Regions from separate parts of the Homo sapiens genome. Here region 1 is linked to region 2. Evidence: fine-mapped expression QTL. A gene starts in region 2. The other region holds a variant in brackets. All regions are shown on one strand. Distances are between the middles of the regions.

The links. PIP is the estimated chance that this variant, and not a neighbour inherited with it, causes the effect.
Region 1: its variant is the best candidate, but not a certain one, in a credible set for the expression of GJB6 in thyroid (GTEx, PIP 0.87).

What each region holds. Positions count from the first base shown.
Region 1 is chr13:20,255,206-20,265,637 of GRCh38, forward strand. No RefSeq gene overlaps it. Among named protein-coding and RNA genes, the nearest start is that of GJB6, 28 kb to the left of the region's middle. The variant G/A (reference allele first, on the strand shown) is at 3,571.
Region 2 is chr13:20,228,450-20,236,449 of GRCh38, forward strand. It overlaps GJB6 (gap junction protein beta 6), which reads right to left and starts at 3,870. Exons shown (of 5, transcript NM_001110219.3): 1 at 3,745-3,870; 2 at 2,933-3,056; 3 at 2,249-2,358; 4 at 1,131-1,300.

The sequences.
Region 1 (10,432 bases), 28 kb after region 2:
ACAATCCTTGAAATACAAGTGTTGTGATCCCTGTTCTACAGTTGAGGTGACCAAAGTACATTCGTTAGGTGACATGCCCAAGATGCAGAACTAGCACACACGGAGCTGGGTAGGACTGGAGCCCCATCTTCCCCTTACTTGAGTCATCATGCAAGCAATTCTTGATCTGGAATCCATGGTCTGGCAGTGAAGGCTCAAGGATGGACTTCTTACTCATGAGCTCCATGAAATTGTTTATAAAAGTCTATGTCAGGTCGGGCATGGTGGCTCACGCCTGTAATCCCATCACTTTGGGAGGCCAAGGTGGGTGGATCACCTGAGGTCAGGAGTTCAATACCAGCCTGGTCAACATGGTGAAACCCCCATCTCTACTAAAAATACAAAAATTAGCCAGGCATGATGGCGCACGCCTGTAGTCCCAGCTACCCGTGAGGCTGAGGCAGGAGAATTGCTTGAACCTGGGAGGCAGAGGTTGCAGTGAGCCAAGATCACGCCACTGTACTCCAGCCTGGGTGACAGAGCAAGATTCCACCTCAAAAAAAAAAAAAAAATACAGTCTGTGTCTCTATGCTCATATGCATTTTTCTTTTCTGTTTTCTTTCTTTCTTTTTTTTTTCTCAAGATGGATTCTCACTCTGTTGCCCAGGTTGGAGTGCAGTGGCACAATCTTGGCTCACTGAAACCTCCTTCTCCTGGGTTCAAGTGATTCTCCTGCCTCAGCCTCCTGAGTAGGTGGGATTACAGGTGCCTGTCACCACGCCTGGCTAATTTTTGTATTTTTAAAAATTATTATTTTTTTCGAGATGGGATCTCATTCTGTCGCCCAGGCTGGAGTATGGTGGCCCGATCTCAGCTCACTGAAACCTCCACCTCTTGGGTTCAAGCGATTCCCCTGCCTCAGCCTCTGGAGTAGCTGGGACTACAGGGGCCCACCACCACACCCGGCTAATTTTTGTATTTTTGGTAGAGATGGGGTTTCACCATGTTGGCCAGGCTGTTCTCAAACTCTTGACCTCAGGTGATCTGCCCGTCTAGGCCTCTCAAAGTGCTGGGATTACAGGCATGAGCCACTGTGCCCAGACCTCATATCCATTTTTTTAAGTGATCATGTCTGTAGCATTAATTAGATTCACCAAGGGATCCACAGCTCTGGAGAGATGAAGCAGTGTATGGTGACACTCACCAAATCTCACTTCTACTTGAGGCTACCCGGTTGTTCTTAATGAACTCTCTAGAGAAGATCAACTCTTCCTGATATAAATGTCTGGCCTTTTTACCACATCTGAAATGCAGTGTCAGGTTCCACTTACCATTTGTGACTAATTCTGTCCCCAAAATTCACATCTATGATGCTGATTACAAAGTGTTTCTAATCTTGGATCTTTTTGGTCTCTTATCTGTGATGTAGTGTGGACCCAGGTATGGATGGAGGGAGCAAAATTTTAAGAATAAGGATCGTCATCAAAAAAGACTATCTCCTGGGGAATTTCTATACCTGGAAATAGTAACTCCTCTGTTTAGACAGCTGGCACTTTTTTATACATCCTAAAATGTACAAAGCAGTGAGAGGGCAGCCTGCCTCCAAACTCAGTCTCCTTAGGGTGTTTCTTATTAGCAGCCATCCTTCCCTCTTGTTACTCACCTTGTTCTGCTCACTGTGAACCAGCTCCATCTTGCTCCTGTCTGGGCAACTAGAGCTTGACCAGCATCCTGACATTCTATCACACACATATAATTTCCTTAGCATCTCATCAGCAGGACTGTGCATGGCAGATGGTGTCAGGAGCTGACCGCTCAAGATGGGTGGAGAACACAAGGTGGGTGGCCAAGTGCAGAAGAACAGCAGGTACTTGGGAAGTCTGAGGATGACAGAACCAAGCAGCAGACCCATTCTAAGCCAGGTTGTAATACAGGCGGAGTGTGATGGCGGCTCTGGGGAGAGCAAGGAGAAATGGCATCTGGCATGAGAAGTCTTTGGCTTCTTTGGAGTTAACAGGCTTAGTTCAAATCTCCAGGACTATTCTCCATTCTCTTCTATAGTAAGCTGAGTAACTATTTCAGTGAATGCCCATATGAGCAAAGCATAATATTAATAAAAAATAGACGATAGCAAAAATCTTAGTTTGCATTTGTAAGGAGTCAAATGTTTGTGGAGCTTGGGATGAGGACTGGGAAAAGTGACTTAAGTTGGTAGATCTGAGCAATCCCAGTGCCCAGTGGGTACTTTCCTTCCTTCTTTTCTTTCCTTCCTTCTTCCGACCAGTAAAACAACAATACTGATTGGTTCATCCACATACACCAAAGGAGTCGTTATACAATAGAATGATGATTGTCCTATTCAGAACCTCCCATGAAAAAGGTACAGAGTTTGTCTGCAATGGAGATTGTTTTAGAACTTTTATTTTAGAGTCATTGTTTAAGTTATCTGCTGCTGTATAACAAGTATTTCAAAACTTATTGGTTTAAAAAGCCATAATTTATTATTTCTCGTGATTCTGTGGGTTTGTGGGGCTCAGCTGGGTGGTTTCTGCTGCTCTTACATGAGGTGTCTTGTTCAACTCAGCTGGAAGCTGGACTGGGCTGGACTTCAGGGTGCCTTCTCTTCGTTCTGGGTCAACTCTTCATGGCCTCCCAGCACTTGGTGGTTTAGCCTGAGTTTCTTACATGGCAGCTGGATCCCAAGGCAGAGGTTCAGAGCTGCCTCTGTGGTGGCTTTGCTGCAGTCCATTGACACAAGCGGGTCATGAGGATAGCAGGCATTCAAGCAGTGGGGCCATGCCTCTATTTTTAGTTGCCCTCTTTAGGCGCACATAACATCACAGTTATCTATTTTCAGAACACATGCTAATGTGTGTTTAGAGTGTTTAGAGCATGTTCACACAATTATTTAATGTGATCTGCAGAGCACTTATAACCCTTACACCTAAGAAAGGCACATCTCAGAGCAGGAAAGTGATTCACCCTAGGTCCTATCCATAGTAAGAAATGGAGCCAGAACTTATAGGGTCTCCTGACTCCTGGCTCCATGGGCTACAGAAGCTGCTCTTGAAGGAAGCTTCTCCCAGTGGGAGTGGATTTGATCCTTGGAAACACCTGAACATCATTCTGCATTAGGTTTGGTTAACAAAATAAAGTGATTGGCTGAGCTGGGTAAACAGTGGTTTTGGTCAAACATGGAATGAGACCGTGCCACGTATTTCCGGTGTGGCTCTTCAATGACTCCTGAGCGTGTGTGGAATATGAGCGTGGTCTCCCAGGATACTTCAAAGGTGTACGAGTCCCTTTGTCAGTGCCACGCGTCCCTGCTCATGGGTATAACATGCCTGGGGATTTGCACAGGCAGCTTTCAGGGTTGTCAAGGAGCCAGGTGACCCAGAACAGGAGGCTGGGCTGGCGGATCTCTGAACGTCATTTCTAGCTCTGCGTCAGTGAACTCCGTGCCGCTGTATTGGTTTGCAGTTATTTTGCTTTCTTTTCAAACTCTACTTCAGAAAAATGCTGGGAAAGAGGGAAGCTTTGAAATGAACACCTTTTATCTGTTTTCATTTTTCTTCCTAAACAAATCCCTTC[G/A]GTTTTTGTTTCATTTCCCTCTTGGCCCCAGTGCCTGGCTCTCCTAAATTGCTCTCTGTAATCTCTACAACAGAACAGCAGCGTTCCCTTATATGTTGTCTATTTATTAATGATTTCCATTTCTCTTGCTTCCATGGGGTTGCAATGTTATTTTAACCTTATGTTGCTCATTATTTTCCTTCTTTTTATTTCATGCAAATAGTTTTGCAGTTTTTCTTATAATAACGATTTTTTTTTTTGAGAGAGGAGAGAGAGAGAGAGAGAGTCTCACTCTGTTGCCCAGGCTGGAGTGCAGTGGCTTGAGTGATCACGGTTCACTGTAACCTTGACCTCCTGGACTCAAGCCATCCTCCCACCTCCGCATCCTAAGTAGCTGGGACTACAGGCACACACCACCGTGTAGAGGTGGGGGTCTCACTACATTACCCAGGCTGCTCTCAAATTCCTGGGCTCAAGCAATTCTCCCACCTTGGCATCCCAAAGTGCTGAGATTACAGGTGTGAGCCACCATGCCTAGCCTATAATGATTCTTTCACGTGGCTGATTTCAGCCTCTCACTTTCATAAGATCAGTTATTATTTTATTTTATCTTATTTTTATTTTTGATTCTTCAACTCCACATCCAGGGTTAGCACCACTCTACAGTTTATAATCTGTCTTTATTGTCTCATCCAATGTCCCTTAGATCTTATTTATTTACGAATTATGTGCTTCCTTGAATTCCCATATTAGTTTCACTGTTCAATGTCTGACAGCATTGCTGATTCCAGAAGTGGTTGATATTAAATTGTCATGGATTGTGTGCAAGTGTGTATATTTATGCAAATGATTCTTTTTTTATTAATATATAATAGATGTAAATATTTTGGGGGTACATGTTAATACACTCATTTAATTTGTAAAGATCAAATTGGGGTAATTAGGATATCCATCACCTTAAATATTCATCTTCTCTTCATGCTAGAAACATTTGAATTATTCTCTTCTAACTATTTTTGAAATATACAATAAATGATTGTAAACTATAGTCACCCTACTGATTTATCAAACACTATGTCTTATTTCTTCTAGCAAACTGTATATTTGTACTCATTAATCAACCTGTCTTCGTGCTCCCCACTCCTGCTCTTCCTAGCCTCTGGTAATCAGCAATTTACTCTCTATTTTCATGGGATCCCACATCTGAGTAAGAACATACAATATTTGTCTTTCTGTGCTTGGCTTATTTCATTTAACATGATGACTTCCAGTTCCCTCTATGTTGCTGCAAATGACAGGACTTTCTTCTTTTTTATGGCTGAGTAATATGCCATTATGTATACACCACATTTTCCTTAACCATTTATTAATGGGCACTTAGGTTGATTCCATATTTTGGCTGTTGTGAATAGTGCTGCAGTAAACATGAAAATGCAGACGTCTCTTCAATATATTGATTTCCTTTCTTTTGGATAAATGTCCAGTAGTGAGATTTCTGGATCATATTGCAGTTCTATTTTTAGTTTTGTTAGGAACCACCATATTGTTCACCATAGTGGTTGTACTAATTTACATTCCCACCAACAGTATATGAGGGCTCTGCTTTCTCCAAATACTTGCCAACCTTCGTTATTGCCTGTCTTTTTTTTTTTTTTTTTTTGAGATGGAGTCTTGCTCTGTCATCATGCTGGAGTGCAGTGGCAGGATCTCGGCTCACTGCAAGCTCCGCCTCCTGGGTTCACTCCATTCTCCTGCCTCAGCCTCCCGAGTAGCTGGGACTACAGGCACGTGCCACCATGCCTGGCTAATTTTTTGTACTTTTAGTAGAGACGGGGTTTCACCGTGTTAGCCAGGATGGTCTCCATCTCCTGACCTCGTGATCTGCCCGCCTTGGCCTCCCAAAGTGCTGGGATTACAGGCGTGAGCCACCGCGCCCGGCCTATTCCCTGTGTTTTTTATAAAAGTCATTATAACTGGGGTGAGATGAAATCTCACTGCAGTTTTGATTTGCATTTCTCTGATGATTAGTGACATTGAGCACTTTTTCATATACCTGTAGGCCATTTGTATGTCTTCTTTTGAAAAATGTCTATTCAGATCTTTTGCTCATTTTTTAATCTGATTAAGATCAGCTTTTTTAAAATGTTTGCTTGAAGCCCCAAATTGTTCTATGCATTTTTCAAGGCATAGAATTTATTATATGATTAGACAGTTTGTTGTTTGTTACTTCTTGTGGAAAAATTTTTAATAAGTGTGCTGACAGCCATTCATTTACCCACTCAACAAAGGTTTGTCAGGTTTCTACTATGTCCAGTGACTGTCCTAAGCACAGAGGTTATGGTGGAGAATAAGGCAGATGCAGCCCCACGGAATTTGGTATTTTGTGTTATGAAATGGCAAATAGCCATAGCCTGAAATCTCACGGTTTCTCAGAGTTTCATGACATTAGTGAAGGCATGGGCAGCAGCTGCTGTTCATGTTGCTTTAAACTGGTGTTAGGAGCCACTGCCAGAAGCAAAACAATTGTAGGCAACCAAATGAGGTGATGTGCAGTGTATGGGAAGGCCAGGGCGGGGTTGTTGAAGGACCAGCAGGGTTGAGACTCAGCCGTGCAGTTAAGTGACACTGTTTTAAGTGAACACGAAATGCACACTTTATTATGGCCCCTACTTAAATCTGGATGTTCTCTTTTGTAGTTGTACAACAGATTGATGACATGGTGATGTCAGGCCAGGAAACAGAGAGGGGACAATCTATCCCAGTAAGGGCACTGGAGTCCTAGCTCTGTCTTGGAACCAGCACCCAGTGGGAGCTGATGGCCAGTCTACTCGCTCCAGCAGACCATCTTCTCTCCCCTCCAGCTCCTACAGTGTTTTATGTTATTCATAAGGCACTGGTCTCAAACTGCCTGCTCTGTAGTGAGTTTGATACTTTTATGTATCCTTAACTGGATGCTAAGTTCCTTAGGGACAAGAATTCTTCCTTCTACCACTCTTTCCTCTCGATGCCGATAACCACATCCAACTGGGTTTCATTTGATCGAGCATTTTATCAGACCCTGGGAAATGTACTATTGAAGTTTCTTTCTTTTATTTTTTTTCTTTTTCTTTTCTTTTCTTTCTTTCTTTTTTTTTTTTTCTTGAGATGGAGTTCGCTCTTGTCGCCGAGACTGGAGTGCAGTGGTACGATCTTGGATCACTGCAACTTCTGTCTCCCGGGTTCAAGCGATTCTCCTGCCTCAGCCTCCCGAGCAGCTGGGACTACAGGCGCATGCCGCCACGCCTGGCTAATTTTTGTATTTTTAGTAGAGACGGGGTTTCACCATGTTGGCCGGGCTGGTCTCGAACTCCTGACCTCAGGTGATCTGCCCGTCTCAGCCTCCCAAATGGCTGGGATTACAGGCGTGAGCCACCATGCCCAGCCTACTGTAGAATTTTCTTATACAATCAAAATTGCTCATAAATGCGGTCCTTTTGGGTCCTTCATTATAACCATATGCTCTTTCTTGGGTGGGATCAAAGTCTTAAACCTCATTCAATTCTAGTTGACTGTGGAACTCAATATGTTAAAAAATAAAGAAGATGAATATTGTTACTGTCTTTGTAGCAATCTTGGGGTACTTGATTGTCCTAATTTTATAAATGAAGAAAACTTAGTATAGAAACTGTAGTAACTTTCCCAAAGCCACATGCTTTATTTAATTTTATTTTAAATTTAAAAAAATTTTTTATTTTTTGTAGAGATGGGGTCTCACTATCTTTCCCAGGCTGGTCTCAAATTCCTAGGCTCAAGCGATCCTCCCACCTCAGCCTCCCAAAGTGCTGAGATTACAGGCATGAGCCACTGTGCCCAGCCATCACATGCTTTAAAAGTGAGCAAACAGCTTGAACCAATCTAAACAGCTTATTTATTTGAGGTAATAAACTTTTCCTTCTTCCTGAGTTTTCCTAAATTCTTCTCTATCATGAAAATAGCATTAATAGCTAAAATTTTAAGTGTTTAGAGGTTTTGCCTTTCAAATCCAGTAAGTCTCCAGAGTCAACAGGTGCTACAAGATGCTACTGGCAGTAACAGTGCTTCTCCAGGATTGTGGTAGGTGGTGTCTAAGGGTCTTTTCAGCTTGAAGGTTCTGTTTCCCAGTTCTGTCTCACTTAAGATCAGATCTTGGTGAGTATATTGGCAAACCATTTCATTATTTAAATTTGTAAAATACAGGCTTTAGGCCGGGCGCGGTGGCTCACACCTGTAATCCCAGCACTTTGGGAGGCCCAGGCGGGCAGATCACCTGAGGTTGGGAGTTTGAGACCAGCCTGACCAACATGGTGAAACTACGTCTCTACTGAAAATACAAACTTAGCCAGGCTTGGTGGCACATGCCTGTAATCCCAGCTACTCGAGAGGCTGAGGCAGGAGAATCGCTTGAACCCGAGAGGCGGAGGTTGCTGTGAGCTAAGATTGTGCCATTGCACTCCAGCTTGGGCAACAAGAATGAAACTCCATCTCAAAAAAAAAAAAACAACAACAACAACAAAAACAGGCTTTAATTGTATTTCATACTCTTTAACTAACTAGATATTAACTATAAAATATTAACAATTTCAAATTTTTGTTAAAGGAATACATTTACACAGCTTAAAAATTCAAGTGGAACTAAAAGGTTTACAAGGCAATATTTCAGTCCTCTGCCCCATTCTCTGCTCCTCCCACCCTGTATGCTGTCCCAGAGGCAACCAACGCCTTTCATTTTTTAGAGCTCTTCTGACGTTTACCTTTATGTTTCCAAATAATGTGCTTATTATGCCATTTACTGATTGCTGGACTTTAGACCTGTTGACTTTTTCTGCTATGGTAGTGGAGGCTTTAGCTCTGACCTGAGCCCCACTGCTCCTGCTCCACCCACACCTCTTCCCTCACCCTCATGACATGATCATGGCTCATACTCTGGTCAAATACATATTGTTATTTATATTATTTTGACTGCGAGCATAATGACGTCTGGACCAAGTTGTATTCTATGTTACATTTTCTTTTGGTTGCAATTGCCTCCCTTCCCTGAGAGTGAACCATGACTGGGGTTTTCATTTGCTTGGCTTTCTATGTGTCTATTGTTCGGCTTTTCCTACTCTTCCAACAAATCTGTCATATGCCCGGAAACAATTTTTTCAAGTTCCCAGACATGGTTCCGCACAGTCCATCTATTCCATCTGTTTCTTTCCCTTTTCCCGGGGGCTGTGGTCTGGGCAGGGTGCTCTGGCCCTCTGCCCAGTGGTCCCCTGGGCTCCCCTTGCCTTTCCCCTGGGCCAGAGCTTGTGCTTTCTGGAGTCCGTGTCTTCCTGTCTTGGTCTCTACCTTCATTTTGCTGAAGCACACACCTTCCAGGAACTTCCTCAGGAGGGGAATGTGGAACTAAACTTCTATGCACATAAAGTCTTCATATCACCCTCAAACCCGATCTGTCTCCCCGCCTCCAATGTACTTTCCTTTCCTCTCTTATTTTCTCTGTTTTTATGAACTTACACCTTTTTTCTTCACTATTGTGTAATTGGCATTTAAGATGGGAGTAGAGATAAATGCACCTGTGTAGGCTCATACTAACCACACGCCTCAGTGCATGGGTGTTTATCAGACTTCTCTCAATCAAGAGCTGCGCTGAGTACTTGTGAAGGCCCTGCAGGGCTGGTGCTGAGTAAGTTCAGGATTGGGCACCTCTGAGGGGTGAGGAAATGGAGGTTCAGAGACGAGAAGGAACTTCCCCAAGGCCACATGGTTAATGATTGGAAGATCTGAGATTCTAAACCAAACCTGAGTCGATCACTTCCCTTTCTGTCCACTGCACTGATAACTGAAGCCCAAGGGCTGAGGCCACACCTCAGCGTGTGAGGATCAGCAGAGGAGACCCTGCTGGCTGCGGGATGTGGATAGGCTTTGAGGAAGAGGAAAAGCACAGGCAAAATGTCAAAGATAAGTGGGAATGAGGTTCCCTGGAGCATGAGTCGCAGGTGCTCAGGAAGGTGCTGGCAGCTCTAGAGAAGGCCAGAGAGAAGCACCCAGTGGTGGGAGCCACAGCCCCAAGACACAGGCTAAAGCCCCAGCCCAGGGTGGGTGAGCTCCACCCTGTCACCTATGGGGTTGCATGCAAGTGGTTCCTCTAAGCATTGGCTTCATCTGGGAGGCGGGGGTGACATCGCTTCTTTGAGCCTTATTTGGAGGACTAAACAACACATGCATTTTGTCATTAGGCTGGTGCAAAAGTAATTGTGGTTTTTTTCTATTACTTTTAATGGTAAAAACCGCAATTAGTTTTGCAGCAACATACTAACTTTAAAGTTCTTAATACATATGAGATATTATTTCTATCAGCTTAGAAGGATCCATTATGATTGTAGAAGACCTGGGATGCCAGTCTGAGGAACTCTTCTTTTCTTAAGCAAAGGAGAAACAAAATAATTCTGATGGGGGAGTGACTGACCCCAGTCTGGCTCACCGGCGGCTGTGAAGTCCTGAGTGTCCTCTGGCAGCTGCCTTTGAAAGCGCAGTGGTGTCCGGGGCTCGCCACTGAATAGCGTTTGTTCTCAGAAGGGAGCCCGGTGGAAAATTTGAAGCTGCAGTTAGGAACTGTGTGTATGGCCTTGGAAACTGAAGATGTTCCTTTAAAAGAAAAATCACAGTGTTTTTAAAACTCAGATGACAGCTTTGACCATTATCTGCTTTCCTCTCCTGCCAGCTCTAGAGTTTTCTTGGGATGTTATCAAGGATGATATCACAACAATGCCCACTTCTGTTTTGTTTTTAACCTGAATGACAAATTACCAATCAGCAGATGTAGGCCATCCAGGGAAGTTTCTTTTAAATGCTGGACTTTTGCAAAAATGTAGAGCCTTGG
Region 2 (8,000 bases):
TTTTTTCTTGTTTGTTTGTTTTTGTTTTTTGTTTTTGTTTTTTGTTTTTTTTGAGATGGAGTCTAGCTCTGTTGCCCAAGCTGGAGTACCGTGGCACGATCTCGGCTCACTGCAAGCTCCGCCTCCCGGGTTCACGCCGTTCTCCCGCCTCAGCCTCTCTGAGCAGCTGGGACTACAGGCGCCTGCCACCAAGCCCGGCTAATTTTTTGTATTTTTAGTAGAGACGGGGTTTCACCGTGTTAGCCAGGATGGTCTCGATCTCCTGACCTCATGATCCGCCCCCCTTGGCCTCCCAAAGTGCTGGGATTACAAGCATGAGCCACCGCGCCCGGCCCATGCTATATTCTTGATACTAAAGCTCCAGTCTGAAATATCTAGCTCTAAAAATAAGTAAACCATGGACTTTACTTTTGAGGATCCACACAGCATTGTGAAGATAGGTTGTTCTTTCCTTTTACAATTCAAATAATTTAGATCTATTGGCATTTGACTGCACTAATGAAATTTCTTGATTGTTTTAAAACTTCTTAGGAAATTAATCACAACTAGCTTATTTATCTATGCCATTATAATTTCACTAATGACAGAACCAAAACTAAAGCCCCCAAAGTTAGAGTGTAACCCCTCAGCATATTTTTCTAGATAGCTCTGTTCCCCTTTCAATGTCATTTAGCAAAAAAAAAAAAAAAAAAAAAAAAAAATTTTTTTTTTTTTTTTTAGACAGAGTCTTGCCCTGTTGCCCAGGGTGGAGTGCAATGGTGCAATCTCAGCTCACTGCAACATCTGCCTCCCCGGTTCTAGTGATTCTTGTGCTTCAGCCTCCTGAATAGCTGGGACTACAGGCATATGCCACCATACCTGGTTAATTTTTTTTTTTTTTTTTTTTTTTTTTTTTTTAGTAGTGACAGGGTTTTGCCACCTTGGTCAGGCTGGTCTTGAACTCCTGACCTCAGCCTCGGCCTCCCAAAGTGTTGGGATTACAGGCATGAGCCATCGCGCCTGGCCATCTAGGGAGTAGTTGATAGATCTGAGAACAGGAACATGTGCCTCCCAATTTCGAAGTTAGCTTTGGATAGTCGGGGAGTCTGCATAGATAAAAGGAAAACAATATCAAAGCAAAACAAGCAAACCTGAGTCCTGTTTCCAACGACTGCCAGTGTTTCAGACCCAAAGAATGAGGGCAAGATCCCTCTGCGAGGGTTTCAGACCTCCTTCTCCTACCCCACTGGAGTGCCTAGAAGCCAATGGTGCACAGTGATGATACGAATGTCAATCTTTGCTCGGTCAGTGAGGATGTCGCCTGTTGAGGGAAAAATAGTAGCTGTTGCCATATTCCTTTAACTCCCCCCCCCCCCGCCCCCCGCAATATGTCCCCTGAATAAACTTTGTGGGTAGTTTTTCTTCATTCCCAGAACTGTTATGAGGTAAGTTCAGAAATTGCCAGCTTCCTGATGCTCTATGCTTTGAACACACAAAATAATCAAAGGTGCTCTTTAGTAGGATCCTTTCCCTATCAAAATAACAGTAACACCCAATCTGAGGCCTCAAGCCCACTCCTTGAGCAAAACAAAAAGGGACAGGGGAGAGTTTGAGACACTGGCTACACCCTGATCCCCAAATCAGTGGTTTAAAAAAAATCTCAGACTCTTTCTTCAATCAGGAAGAATAGATTTCTTTTGTCTCTAGAAATCTCAGGTCATCCAAGGGACAACCTGATAGTTGATTTTTAAATTTAGTGACAAAAAACTTCAGCAACTGTCCTGATAGAGTAACAGCTAGTGATAACAATGGGTCAGGGATTCATATATTTCAAAATTAACTCAATAAAAATGAAACGTTTCTGTCTGTGGAGTCTAGATGTAAAAATGGAAAACTCATGCAATTACGTATGTTTCTTACATCATTTAAGAATTCAAAGAGTTAAAAATTAATTTCCATTAAGTTAAACTTTCCTTCTCTGGGTCTTGTTAGCAATATATGTTTGTTCATTCAAGCAAACCTGTGTCCTTTCCAAACATTTAAGCTCAACTAGATTTAAATGACCCTGGGAATAAAAATGGAGCAGGCCCTCTGGGGTTCCAGGTCTATGCTCATGCACTAAGCAACTAAAACAGAAATCATAACCTATGGCAGGTGGCCATTAGAAGGTTATGCCCTCACAGACCAAGAAGCTTGGGTCAGAAATCACTTTCCCACAATTTTATCCCATTTAACATTTAAACTAATATATGCAAACTGCTCACAGCACCTGGAATATTCAAATTGAATTAAAGATGCATGAAGAGGGCGTACAAGTTAGAATTTTTCTTTCGCCATACAGAAATTGTTTAGCCAGATCTTCTGTACTTCTTTTCCTTCCTAACACTCAGAATTCAGAAGAGAAGACATAAGAAAAAAAGCATAAAGTCATCATTACCTGTATCAGAATTTGTTTAAAAAACAACCAGTGGGGCAGGTGAACTGACCAGCGTCTTCCCAGCTTTAGTCACTGCAGTGGCAATGAGGCGCTCTCCACACCCCCAGTTATGTGACAGGCTAGAGCCCTGGTGTTCTCTCTTCAGAACCCCCCTCTCCTCCTTGGCAAGCTTCAAGCAACACCCCCAAAGACGCTGCTGGATCCAAACAACAGACAAAGCTCTCCACAGGAGCAGTTCTGAGCAGCACCCTGCAATTCTAAGGAGACTGCATGGGGGCAGGACATTTTCTTCTAGAACACTGGTTAGATTCTGCTAGAACTGGGGCAAGAAAATAGCTGTATGGCATAAAGTCTACTTGAGGGAAAAGAACAACCCGGCACGGTTACGTTCAATCAGACACTAAACAGAGTGCACGCCCACCCAGGGGACACTGAGGTCGCTGGGCCAGTGTCCCCGCCTGGTTGCAGGTCCCTAACCCCTCCGGGAGTGCAGAGCTGCGGGCAGGCCACACTCACCCTGACCCTTCCTGCTCCCCAGGAAGGGAGGTCAGCCCCGTTTGCAAAACACAGGATGCCCGTGACACCGGAGACAGGTCTTCTTCACCGACAGGAAGTGCCTTCTGGTGCCTGCACGTTTTAACTAAGATGTGTCGCCAATTACTTTTAATTACTGTCGTCCACGCTATTGTCATCAGCATTTCACAAGTTTCTCGGAAGCCCATCACGCAGCCCATACCCTGCGGTTCTCCGGGGACTTATGCATCGGCCCAAGTTGAGGGTTTGTCTGAACTGAAACCCGCATCCTAGACCTGGCTTTCTTCTCCCCAAATCCAAGGGGACACCCCGGTGACCCACAAAAGCTTAGAAAATCCAACACGCAGCAAATGAAACGGGGGAAAGGGGCACCGGCCCTCACTCTGGCCTCTTAGACACACGATATGAAACCTTCATAAAACCTGTTGTACAAGTCAAAGGGGACCACGCTGGGGTAAAAGTCAAACCAGTCCATCCTCGTTCCTCTGCGTACAGAGAGAGGGTCCAGCGCGGGCGGCGCCCACTGCCATCGGGCCGGGGCCGGGGCGCGTGGACAGGAGGGTGCGGATAGAGGCAGATCGGGGGCCCGGTCGCCCCACGTGCGGCCAGACACCCATCCCGGCCGCGCTCTGCCGGCTCTGATCCGGTGCCAGACAGGAGCGACAGGGGCGAGGTGGGGACCAGCCGCCGACCTCACCTGTTTTGTTTTCTTGGAGGAAATTCCTCCGCTGGGGGGCCGAGGTGGCACCGCCCGCTCGCCCCCCGCAAGACCCAGCCGGTCCGCGCCCGCTTACCTGCTCTGCGGCCGGCGGCCCTGGCGCGGGCTCTGCGCGGGGCGGCGCCCTTCGCTCCGGCTGGGCAGGCAGGTCGGGCTCGGGCGCCGCCGGCTGTCGGGCTCTCGTCGGGTTTCGGGTGAAGGCCCCGGCTCCCACCTGCTGCGCCTTTTAACCGCGCCCCACCCCGCCTCTGCCCTGACGCGGCTCGGGCGGGCTGCGGGAGGCGAGCGCTGTCACTCGACGAGCCCCCCGCCCCCACCTACCCGGGGCGCACTAGCCGCTGGGCGCGGACCGTCCCCCTGAGGAGCAAGGAGTGCAGGACCGGGGCTGTCCCTCCGGGGCCGGATGCGCAGAGCGGGGACCTTTTTCCCGTGGCGGGGGCGCAGGGTGGGGGACCCCTAAGAAGTGCACAGTGCGCGGGGCCCTCTTTCCGGCCCTTGGAGGGAACGGGGTACCGGGGATGCAGGGGGTAGGGCTCTCCCTCGGGAGCGCAGAGGGCGGGCCCAGCCCCCTCTGCACGGGTGCAGGTGTGGGGCGCCTGCTCAGGCCCTCGAGGGAACTCTTCCTCCCTAGTGCACCCGTGGGGAGCAGTGTGAGGGGCAGGCTGTGTTTTTGCCAGGACACATCCTCAGTCTTTCTGGGTGATCCAGCCTTCTCATAGCCCGCGGGGTGCACAGACCTCTCCTATAGGAGCCTGGAGGTTCTTTATTAATTAATGACCACTTAGAGGAGGTACAGGGGTTGTTTTTATTAATTACCTCCATCCTTTGAAGACTCCTCCGGGGAAGCGGAGCAGGCCTTCCTCGGGACAGTGCACCAGGAGAGACCACATTGCCTCCCCGCTTTTCAGTCAAGACTAGAAAGCTCAGGGCCAGTACAGGGAGTGGTGCAAGGGCTGGTGGGGTGGAAACGTTGGAAGCTATTTAGGCACCTGGCTTTACAGGTTCAAACCTGTCACGCATCGGACAAAAGATGTGTGACTTGCTTATTCTACAAAACTGTTCGGTAATTAAACGTCCCCACCTAAACCATATGCCACTTGTTGGGTCATATTCTCCCACGAAACAATTAAGATGTCTGTTAAAGGTCATGGAATTTGAGCCAAGACTTCATAAAAATCCGCTTTCCAAAATATTTTATTTGAGGAGAACAAGGTTCTTAAAGAATTTGCCCAAGTCAAGTTTTAAAAACTTTGGGGAGGCCCCTGAAATGGCCTTGAACTTGGAGAGTGGAGAGACACAGAAATCTCTAGGCTTTTTAAATTTATTTATTTATTTATTTATTTATTTATTTATTTATTTATTTTGACTAAGTCTGGCTCTGTTGCCCAGGCTGGAGTGTGGTGGTGTGATCTCAGCTCATTGCAACCTCTGCCTCCCGGGTTCAAGTGATTCTCCTGCCTCAGCTTCCCGAGTCGCTGGGATTACAGGCCCGCACCACCATGCCTGGCTAGGTTTTGTATTTTTAGTAGAGCTGGGTTTCACCATGTTGGCCAGGCTGGTCTGGAGCTCCTGACCTCAGGTGATCCACCTGCCTCAGCCTCCCAAAGTGCTGGGATTACAGGCGTGAGCCACCGCGCCGAGCATCTCTAGGCTTTTTTGTTAGACATCCTCACACTGCCCAGATGTGCCCTATGCGGTAAATCTTGGGTGCTCTGTCCTGCCCCACACAATCTAACTGTGGACTTCCCAGTCTTCTCTCCATTCCTCTCCCAAACAGATGCTTCAGCCAGGCTCAGCTGTTTGCATAGTAAAATAATTTTTCTAAGCAGATTGTAAACTTCTTTGGGGATTATAAACAGTTTAAGCTTTTCTTCCTCTTCTTCTTCTTTTGCATTTCTACAATACTAAGTACTTTGCTCATAGTATGTGCTGCTCCATGAGTATTTGAATATTGCTTGGCAAAGCTGAACCAGCATAGCAGATAGTCCTGGAAATAGCTTTTGCTTTTTCTAAAGCATGCCCTGTTCTCAATCCTGCACCTGATTCCATGCAGTACTGTGTCTGAGCATTGACATCCTGGACCAGTGGAAATTGTTCTAGGACTGGTGCAGGATAGAACTTTCAAACCAAAGTTGTCACAGAGAATGTGTTGCATTTGCTCATGTGTGCAAAAATGAAACCATCTCATCACTGTGTAAAATATCTCTTTTTCTGTTCAGGTTATCTATATTAGTCTGCATGGCCTTAACATTGAACACTGTCCTTCAGTTTTTGCTACTCATCAGACAGTCTTGTTGCAGCAGAAATTAAATGTGGACTGTATAAAACTTAAGGACTTGATGGGATGCGCATTTGAAAACTGAAAATTAGTTGTCTTAGTCCATTTGTGTTGCTATAACAGAATACCATAGACTGGGTAACTGATAAAGAAAAGAAATTTATTTTTCAGAATTCTAGAGGCTGGGAAGTCTGATATCAAGATGCTCGCATCTGGCGAGGGTTTTCTTGCTGTGTCTTCCCATGGCAGAGGTGGAGGGGCAAAAGAATGAGAAGATAGGGAAAGAAAAGAGAGAGAGGTGGGGGTGGAGAGAGAGGAAGGGGTTCAAACTCATTGTTTTTTCAGGAACCCACTCTCAAGATAACTAACCCACTCTAGAGATCACAGCATTAATCCATTCATGAGGGCAAAGCCATCATACCTCCTCACCTCTTAAAAGTCCCTCCCATCTTTCAACACTGTTTCATTGGGGATTAAGTTTCCAACACATGGACTTTAGGGGACACATTCAAACCATAGCATTCTGTCTTAGCCCCCCAAATTCATGCCTTTCTCACATGTGAAATACATTCATTCCATCCCAATAGTCCCCAAAGGCTTAACTCTTCCAGCACCAACTGAAAAGTTCAAATCCAGAGTCCCATCTAAATCAGATAAAGCTAAGACTCCAAGGCAGGCATAGCTGGCCTGAGGCAGACTCCTTTCCAGCTGTGAACCTGTGAAATCAAAACAGGCTATCTACTCCCAAAAGACAATGGTGGGGCAGGCATAGGAGAGATATTTTCATTCCAAAAGGGAGAGAGAGGCAGGAAGAAAGGGGTAACTGGTTCCAGCTACATCTAGAACCCAACATGCATGTGTTAGGCTGTTTTTGCATTGCCACAAATAAATACCCGAGGCTGGGTAATTTATAAAGAAAAGACAGGCCGGTGTGGTGGCTCACGCCTGTAATCCCAGCACTTTGGGAGGCTGAGGCAGGAGGATTGCTTGAGCTCAGGAGTTTAAGACCATCCTGGGCAATATAGTGAGACCTCATCTCTACTAAAAAAAAAAAAAAAAAAAAAAATTAGCTGGGTGTGATGGTGTGTGCCTGTAGTCCCTGTTACTCAGGAGGCTGAGGCAGGAGGATCACTTGAGCCTGGGTGATGGAGGCTGCAGTGAGCTATGATCTTGCCACTGTGCTCCAGCCTGAGCAACACAGTGAGACCGGTCTCAAAAAAAGAAAAGAAAAGAAATTTAATTCACTCATGGTTCTGCAGACAGTGCAAGAAACATGGTGCTAGCATCTGCTTCTGGTGAGGGCCTCAGCAAGTTTCCAATCACGTTGGAAGGACAAGGGAGAGCAAATGTCTCACATGGTGAGAGTGCGAGCAAGAGAAAAAGCAGGGAGGTGCCCTATACTTTTAAATAACCAGATCGCAAGTGAACTCATTGGTCACCAAGGGGATGGCACTAAGCCATTCATTAGGGATCCACCCCCATGATTCAAACACCTCCCACTAGGCCTCGCCTCCAACATTGGAGATTACACTTCAACATGAGATTTGGAGGGGACAAATACCCAAACTATATCAATGGAAAAAAAACATTAAGTCTTAAAACTGGTGAATAATCTCCTCTGACTCCCTGTCCTGCGATCTGGGCACACTGGAGTGGGGCTTGGACCCCTCAAGACCTCAGGCAGCCCCTCCCCTATGGCTTTGCTGGGATCAGTCCACCCAGCAGCTCTCAGAGGTTGGAGTCTCATGCCTGCAGCTTTCCCAGGTTGGAGTTGCACACTAGTGACCCTACAGTTCTGGGGGATCGGGGCTCCCCGGCTCCCATGCCTCACCTCTGTGACAAGTGTCTGCCTGAGCCCCTAGCCGGTCCAAGTCATCCTTTGAAATCTAGGTGGAGGCCACCATGGCCCCACAGCTTGTACATTCTGCATGTCTGCAGAGTCAGCACTACATGCATGCCACCAAGGTTTGCAGCTTATACCTTCCAGAATGGTGGGTCAAACTGTGGGGTGCTGTGCCAGAATTTGGGGAGCAGAGTCCCAGGGCAATGTAGGG